2 separate regions of the Homo sapiens genome follow, and region 2 is linked to region 1. A link means that fine-mapping ties the variant in region 1 to the expression of a gene that starts in the linked region. Tissue or cell type: non-classical monocytes. Region 1 holds a variant in brackets; the other region holds the start of a gene. All regions are shown on one strand. Distances are from middle to middle. Region 1 holds the start of ZNF649 (zinc finger protein 649). Region 2 holds the start of ZNF613 (zinc finger protein 613).

Region 1 (4,396 bases):
TTAAGAAGAAGGTGCTGTGCTTTGATATGCACATACATAAACGTCTCGGTGCATTAAAGAGCAGTATTGCCGCCAGCTTGTCTCACCTCCAGCCCTAAGGCGATTTTCTCCTATCTCAGTAGATGGAACATACAATCGGGTTTTATACCGAGACATTCCATTGCCCAGGGACGAGCAGGAGACAGATGCCTTCCTCTTGTCTCAACTGCAAGAGGCCTTCCTTCCTCTTATACTAATCCTCCTCAGCACAGACCCTTTACGGGTGTCGGGCTGAGGGATGGTCAGGTCTTTCCCTTCCCACGAGGCCATATTTCAGACTATCACATGGGGAGAAACCTTGGATAATACCTGGCTTTCTGGGGCAGAGGTCCCTGTGGCCTTCCGCAGTGTATTGTGTCCCTGGGTACTTGAGATTAGAGAGTGGTGATGACTTTTAACAAGCATACTGCCTTCAAGCATTTGTTTAACAAAGCACATCCTGCATAGCCCTAAATCCATTAAACCTTGAGTCAACACAGCACACGTCTCTGTGAGAACAGGGTTGGGGGTAGGGTTACAGATTAACAGCATCTCAAGGCAGAAGAATTTTTCTTAGTACGGAACAAAATGGAGTCTCTTATGTCTACTTCTTTCTACATAGACACAGTAACAGTCTGATCTCTCTTTCTTTTCCCCACAGTGCACTGTTGTTAGTGCTCCAACCTCACAGTGCAGGGGTTGAGGTGTCAGGAGAGGGAACACATCAGTGCCATTTCACTGTCTCCTGTGTCAAAGCAAAATTAAAATGCAGACCAGAATTCAAAAACTCCTGAGCAAACAAAACCCAGTAGGCCTTAAAAACAGCCTTAACCTTGCTTAACCTGCAAACATAAGCAACAATTCACTTGAGTCATTTCTGGTAAATGCTTGTGTTAGGGAAGGACAAAACTCAATCTCAACCGATCAAAAGTAGGCAACTCACATGCTATTATGTCATTAGGGACTTTCCAAGGCAAATTTAAAAAAATGCATTTTTATAATTGTAACTAATCAAATAATTTCTTTGTTTTACTCCTTCACTCACCCTGTGAATACTTGTGTCTAATGCTTTAAGCATAGAAGCGCGAGACTTCTTTTGGTTTGATGCTTCCTAATTCATGAATTGCTGTTTGTTCAGATAAACTCTAGAAAATGCTCCTGCGCCTCAAATTTTTGCTTTCAGGAGAGTCATCCCGGTTTAATGACACAAGAACAACTGTTTCCCTTCTGTACGGCAGATCTACCAAGATGGCCGCGCCCAGAGAGCCGTGGCTCAGGGCGCGGACATGTTACCTCCTCGAAGAGAAGCCCATGTCCCATCGTCCTAGCGCGGCAGAATTGACTCGCGCCCTCGTCCGCCGCCATAGGCCAGTGCCGGGGTTTAAGGGCCAGGAAAGGAAGCATTCAGGGAATTTAGGTGTAGCCAGAAGAAAATCAGGTGAGTGTTTGGGTCTCTCCGTGGAGTAGGTTAAAGGGGTAGGGAGCTTCTGAGGAGCCTGTGGGGAGAGCTGGCGGCCTGGGCGGTGGAGCCTTTGGGTTGGGGTGCCTTTGCGGTCCGGCGTGGGAGAGTTCTTGTGGTCGGGCGTTAAAGGTCTGTCGAGTTCAGCGACTGAGACTCGGCGTCAGAGTTTGGGGTCTCTGAGGGTCACTCTGTTAGTAGGCCTCTGGATCACTGGATGGAGAACTCTAGGGGGACGCTGCCCAGCACGCCGGCTTTATCACCGACGCCATTATTATCACTCCAAATGCTGCAGTTTAAAGTCGGTGATGAAGCCGGGGTGCTGGGCAGCGTACGAGGGTGTGTGGTGTAGGTTTTGGGGTGAATCGGGGATGTGTGTTAAGTGTTTCGGGGAGGCCCAGGCATGTGGGGCTCAGAGGCTTGTAAAATCTGGTATTTTACAAGCCCAGGCCCCTGGCTGGGGTTGAGTTGTGAAACTATAACCGCCCACCCTTGCCGGCTGCCTAGACAGAGCCGACTTGTTAAGACAGGGAAATTGCAATGGAGAAAGAGCAATTCATGCAGAGCCGGCTGTGCGGGGAGACCGGAGTTTTATTATTACTCAAATCAGTGATAAAAGAAAAATTGAAGCCGAATTAAATTTACAGGAGTTTCCTTGAGCAATGAACGATTCGCGAATTGGGCAGCCCCCAGAATCACAGCAGATTAACAGAGACTCCAGGGGTGCCTCGTGGTCAGAACAAATTTATAGACAAAAAAGGTAAAGTGACATACAGGAATCGGAAGCGAGGTCCAGAAACAGTGAGATTGGTTACCATTCGGCGTTTGCCTTATTTGAACGCAGTTGGAACATTCAGCA[G/T]TCTATGAGTATGGCCGCTGGGACTGGCCACCACTCAGCTATTGTTACAGGTGCATACGATTAAGTTCGGTTTTCAATTTTGTCTGTTAAGCTAGGTTGCAGTTTATCCACAAGGACTCAAATATAGAAGTATGGAGTCGTTCTCAGGCAATATTTAGTTTGCTTAAGCATCAGTCTCCTTGAGCATTTGGGGATCAAAGTTTCCTCCTATCCCCCAGACGGAATCTAGCTCTGTTGTCCAGTCTGGAGTGCAGTGGTGCGATCTCAGCTCACTGCAACCTCCGCCTCCTGGGTTCTAGCGACTGTCCTGCCTCAGCCTCCCGAGTGGCTGGGATTACAGGCGCCCGCCACCACGCCCGGCTAATTTTTGTATTTTTAGTAGAGACAGGCTTTCACCACGTTGGCCAGGCTGGTCTTGAACTCCTGACCTCAGGTGATCTGCCCGCCTCGGCCTTCCAAAGTGCTGGGATTATAGGCATGAGCCATCGCGCCTAGCTATGATTGTTACGATTTATAAGAAATGTATAATCGATCTTTGTCCTGTTTCCTGGCACATGTCTCCCAAAAGCCTTGGAACCTCTTCAGTAAACAGTGCCTTTTTGTGTGGCATTGAGATGGCTGGTGACTGGGGGCTTCTGGCTGGCCTTAGGACGGGGGAGGCTGGTTGCCAGGGCAACTAACCATGTCATTTGAGGGTTGGAAATTTTAGCTCTGCCTGGCAACAGGGAAGTTGAAGGTTGAGTTGATCACCAGTGGTTAGTGTTTTAATCAAGTATGCCCACATAATGAAACCAGCGTAAAAACTCAAAAGGACTGGTGAACTTCTGGGGAACTTACAGATTCTTGAGCATGTGGAGGTGCCTGAGGGTGGTGAACTGAGTCTCTAATAAGCTTCCGTGGAGGGCATGGAAGTCCCACGCCCCTTGCTACAAACCTTGCTCTGTGCTATCCCTTCCATCTGCCTCTTCATCTGTATCCTTCGTAATATCCTTTATTCCTTTTCCCATTTGCCCTGAGAATACTCACCTTTGGTGCTTGCAGCTGGAGCATTTACCCCGAGATAACTTTGCCATGAACGATCTCACTTTTATTATTTTCACATCGCTCTAGTAGGTCGCCTTGGGAAACAAAAGACATCATTCTACTTATAGCATTCTGTTTTTAGTAGTGGTATTTCCATTTACAAAATGTAGTAGTTCTCGATCACTGAAAATGTCAAATCCTAGAAAACGTAGCATTCCTACATGTGATGTTAACATCATTCTCAAACAGTTCTTGGCTGAAGACTCACTGGATGGATCCGATTTTTACCAAATCGAGAATTCTGATGATTCCAAATCGAGAATTCTGATGATTCAGATGATTCTGATGTTAGTTCTGTTTAGAAATAACTCCTAGAACAGCTTTTATATTTTATTTTCACATTGAAAATCAGATTTACTGCAGCCTCAAAGAGCATGTTTATGTAAAATGAAATAAGCGCTGGCAGTGAGCTGCACTTCGTTTTTCTAGACAGGAAAAGAGTTGAAATAAACCAGTAAATGTTAAGTGCTTTCCTGAGTTCTGTGAGCCATCCAGCAAATTAATCGAACCTGAGGAGGAGGCCGTGTGAATCCTGATTTATAGCTGGTCCATCAGAGGTACAGGTGACAACCTGCTGCTTGCAACTTGCGTCTGAAGTTGGGGGCAGGCTTGAACTGAGCCCTTAATCTGTGGTGTCTGACACTATATCTAGATACACAGTCTCAGACTGAATTAAATTATAGGATGCTGTCTTAGCCTTGTTGGTGCTGCTATAACAAGATAGCTGAGACTGGATAATTTATAAACAACAGAAATTTATTTGTTATAGTTCTGGAGACTGAGAAGTCTAAGATCGAAGCACCAGCAGGTTTGGTGTCTGGTGAGGGCCTGATTTCTGCTTTCAATATGGTGTTTTGTCGCTATTTCTTTGGAGGTGAAGAATGCGGTGCCCTCACATGGCAGAAGGCAGAAGAGCAGAAAGGGCCGATCTGTGTGTGAAGCCTCTTTTATTTTTATTATTATTTCTTCTTTCTTTA
Region 2 (4,396 bases), 23 kb before region 1:
AGCCTGGGCAACATAGTGAGATGCCATCTCTATAAAAAGAAAAAAAGGTGGATTAATGATGAGTAGAAGGATGATATATAGATAGATATGTAATAAAAGAAACACAATAAAATGATGATAAAATCCAGATGGTAGGCAAACAGGTATTCAATTGTAAAGTTCTTTAAATCATGTTATATGTTTGAAAGTTTTTGTAACCTGGAGAACAGGGAAGTTTGTTCAGTAAGGTGACCAAAAACAATGTAAATATTTTCTAAACTAATTGCTCTTCTATGTAAGAGTAAATTAGAAGAGAACAGAAAGGTCAAAATTAAAAACACACCATTTACAATTGCAAAAAAATTAAAAACTAAGGTGCTGATGAGGGTCAGGGAGAAACATGTTTGGGTAAACATAGAATTGTAACCCATTCTTAAAAGTGATAAGTGAACTTTTTAAGTCTTAAAATTCTATCTAAATATATCCATACACTTAGTGATTCAAGTCACAGTGGTGCAGTTTTGCCTCTTGATGGTATACTATTACAGAAATCTTAAAAAAAAATTTTTAAACAAAAACATGGATGATATGTTTACTATAAGAACGTTCATAATGTAAAATTAAATACGGCAAATTATACCAATGTTTCAGCAGCTTATCTGCATTGTGAAAATCAAGCATAGAAAACTGAAATTGAAATATACAAAAATCTTATCAAAAGTCATTACTGGGGAACACATTTTGGGATAAGAGAGATGTTTTACTTGTGTCAGAACCTGAAAGAAAATATTTACGTGTGTGTATACACACATTCACACAGTAAACCTGAGGAAGAAGAACGAAAATCTTTAATAGAAACCTTATCATTTTCTTCGTTTTGTTTTTTCCTTTTTCTTTTCTCCTTTTCTTTTCTTTTTTTTTTTTTTTTGAGGCAGGGTCTCACTCTGTTGCCCAGGCTGGAGTGCAGTGCTCAATCATAGTTCACTGCAGCCTAGAACTCCCGGGGTCACGTGATCGTCCCACCTCAGCCTCCCGAGTAGCTGAGACTACAGGCGTGTGTTACCACACCCAGTTAATATTTGTATTTTTTGGAGAGACAGGCTATGTTGTTCAGGCTGATCTCCAACTTCTAGGCTCGAGCAATTCGCCCACTTTGGCCTCCCAAATGCTGGGAATATAGGCGTGAGCCACCGCGCCAGGCCACCTTACCATTTTAGATTTGATTAATCTTTGATCTTCCCCAAAGCTTTCCTATTTACCAGGATGAGAGAAAGGAGAGATGTGAGAAGTCAAATGAGATTTGTAAACCAGTCCTTGCAGAGAAACTTAAAAGGGACTGAGAGGGAATGTACCGTTGGACCTGAACACACACACCAATCAGGATGCCCTGGCTGCCAAGGCTTCAGCCTTCACAAGCTTCTCCACGACTGTCACATCTAGACCTCCCTAACATGGTCACACCCCCTTAGATTAATCCAAAAACCTGGACCACACACCTAGGTTCACATGAACCCGGGCTCCTCCTCACTGAGTCGCATATTAAATCCTGATTACAGCCTGGAGCGAAGGCTCACGCCCGTAATCCCAGCACTTTGGGAGGCCAAGGTGAGAGGATCGTTTGAGGCCAGGAGTTGGAGACCAGCCTGGGCAACATAGTGAGACCCCCGTCTCTGCAATAAACAGATAGATTAGATAGATAAATTAGATAGATAGATAGATAGATAGATAGATTAGATTAGACAGATTAGATAGATAGATAGATAGATAGATAGCGTGGTGGCGCTCACCTGTAGTCCCAGCTACTCGGGAAAGCTGAGGTGGGAAAATCACCTGAGCCCCGGGAGATGGAGGCTGCAGTGAGCCACGATTGCGCCACTGCACTCAAGCCTGTGTGACAGAGCGAGACCCTGTCTCAAAAATAAAAAATAAAACCCCGAATCCGAAGCAGACACAGTTTTCCTTGACAAAAACCACTCCTCACTCCAGTCCTCAATCACCGAGCCCTACAGAGTGACCCGCAAAGGCACCAAACCCTGATCACGGACTTCCAAGTGTTGCTCTGGACAGACTCTGACCACCGACCACTGGGATCCCTCAGGGCTGACTCCGGAGACGCCCCAACCCCAATACCCCGACTCCCACTTGCTCCCGCTTCCCCCACAAACTCCACGGCTCCGCACTAAACGGACGCCCACAGACACCCTCCTCCCCTCATCCTGACAGACAGACCCACACACAGACCTGATTTTGCGGGGAACCCACCGAGACTTCCCAGAACCTGCACTTTCCTGAATTATTCCACTTCTGGGCCCTCCCCCAGCCTCCAAGCCGGCCTACGGCGGCCGAGGAAGGTCTGAAGTTGCAGGTGTACGGAGCACGGACGACTGGGAGGTAGTAAGTTCGCGTCCTCTCGTCACGGATACTGGAGGCAGCCATCTTTGAATCCTGCACGTACGGAAGGTAAAGTGGACCTTTTCTGCCCAAGTATTCAGGGATAGCGCGGGACGGTGAAGAACTCCATATTTTGGCACCTAAATCCTGCGCCCAAGTTTCATTTATTTTCAGAGGGTCGAGCTTAGCCAAGACAAACATGGTATGGCTACGTGCACCTTAGCGGGCTGGGGAGAAAAGTCATCCGCTTTGCACAAAGAATGACGGGAATGACACAATGGGCGCGGCCATCTTAACACTTAGGTGTCCGTACAAGTGAAAACGCTTTCTCCACAGAGGAAAAAGAGCAATCGCACCCTGAGTCATATACCGCGAAAACGCATCTAGCTACATGTGGAGGACAAGAGGAAGATTTTTGAGGACCAAAAGGGTGTGGAGAGGCAATCGAGGTACGAGGATATTGTTCACCCCGTCAACGGAAAGTGAAAAAACAGCGACCCCTGGAACCTCATTTACATTTGAGGGACACGGTCACCGCCCAGTGCAGGTAAAGAGAGCAGCCACCAGCCAACCGGAAAAGGAATCCAATGCGGGAGGCGGGAATTTTCCTTAAGAGAGAAGAAGGGCCTTCCCTCTGCTGTAGGTGGAGTCAATCTTAACGTCGGGGCTTTCGGAGAACCAAGTGCCTAAAATTCTGGAAGGAATAAATAAGGCGACTCTGGGAGAATGAAAAGTTGTGCAAGCCCGGGCGCGATGGCGCACACGTGTAGTCCCAGCTACTGGGGAGACCAAGGCAGGAAGATCGCTTGAGCCCAGGAGTTCCAGGCTGCAGTGAGCTATGATCGCACCTATCAATAGCCACTGCACTACACAGCCTTGGCAACCCCTTCATGAGGAAAAAAAGAAAAAAGAAAAAAAAAAGTTGTGCAAGAAAAGTAATCATAGGATACTACCTGACTGACCTATAAATATTATTTACATAGTCATCATAACGTAAATTCTAATTCTGATCCAACCTAAATTAAGACAATTCCATTGGAAGAATGAGAAGGAAATTCCTGCATGCAGTGGAGTGTTTATATTTATAACAGAGTTTTCACGTGTCCTTCATGATACATCTATAGAAAATGCCCCAAAATGCAAACTCCATTTCAGAAACATACCGTGTTACTTAAAATATCAAATCTGTGAAGAGTGAAAAGCTTTACAGAACTATATGACTCCTTAGGAGAATTGCAAAATAAAAGCAAGAATCTTATGACTCAGGAATTCCACTCCTAGATACTTATACAACAGTAATGAAATGATATGTCCTCACAAAGACTCACAAGAATGTTCTTAGCACCTTTATGCATAATACCCTGAACAGGAAACAGTCCAAGTGTCCATCAGTACATGAATGTATAAGCAAATTGCAGTGTAATCATACCCTGGAATACTACTGAACAATAATAAAAAACAAATCATAGATGCATGCACCAACATAGATAAATCTCAACAACCTTATGAAGGGGGCCAGCCTCTCCACACCTGTGGGTATTTCTCATCTGGTGGGATGAGAGACTGAGAAAAGAAATAAGACACACTGACAAAGTATAGAGAAAGAACAGTGGGCCCAGGGGACCAGCACTCAGCATACGAAGGACTCCTGCCAGCACTGGTCTCTGAGTTTCCTCAGTATTCATTGATCACTATCTCTACCATCTCGGTGAGGGGGATGTGGCAGGACTATAGGGTAATGGTGGGGAGAGGGTCAGCAGGAAAATATGTGAACAAAGTTCTCTGTGTCATAAATAAGGAAAGGTGCTGTGCCTTGATGTGCACGTAGGCCAGATTTATGTTTGACTTTACACAAGCATCTCAGTGTAGTATAGAGCAGTATTGCTGCCAGCATGTCTCACCTCCAGCCATAAGGCAGTTTTCTCCTATCTCAGTAAATAGAATGTACAATTGGGTTTTAAACTGAGACATTCCATTCCCAGGGATGAGCAGGAGACAGATGCCCTCTTCTTATCTTAACTGCAAA

The links. PIP is the estimated chance that this variant, and not a neighbour inherited with it, causes the effect. A credible set is the group of variants that fine-mapping cannot tell apart.
Region 2: it holds the start of ZNF613, and the variant in region 1 is the best candidate, but not a certain one, in a credible set for the expression of ZNF613 in non-classical monocytes (Schmiedel 2018, PIP 0.63).

Annotation. Positions count from the first base shown.
Region 1 is chr19:51,901,974-51,906,369 of GRCh38, reverse strand. It overlaps ZNF649 (zinc finger protein 649), which reads left to right and starts at 1,353. Exons shown (of 5, transcript NM_023074.4): 1 at 1,353-1,456. RefSeq lists enhancers at 87-711, 1,202-1,321, 1,040-1,584, 2,675-3,220. The variant G/T (reference allele first, on the strand shown) is at 2,337.
Region 2 is chr19:51,925,365-51,929,760 of GRCh38, reverse strand. It overlaps ZNF613 (zinc finger protein 613), which reads right to left and starts at 2,289. Exons shown (of 6, transcript NM_001031721.4): 1 at 2,221-2,289; 2 at 1-29. RefSeq lists enhancers at 2,351-2,650, 2,506-3,269.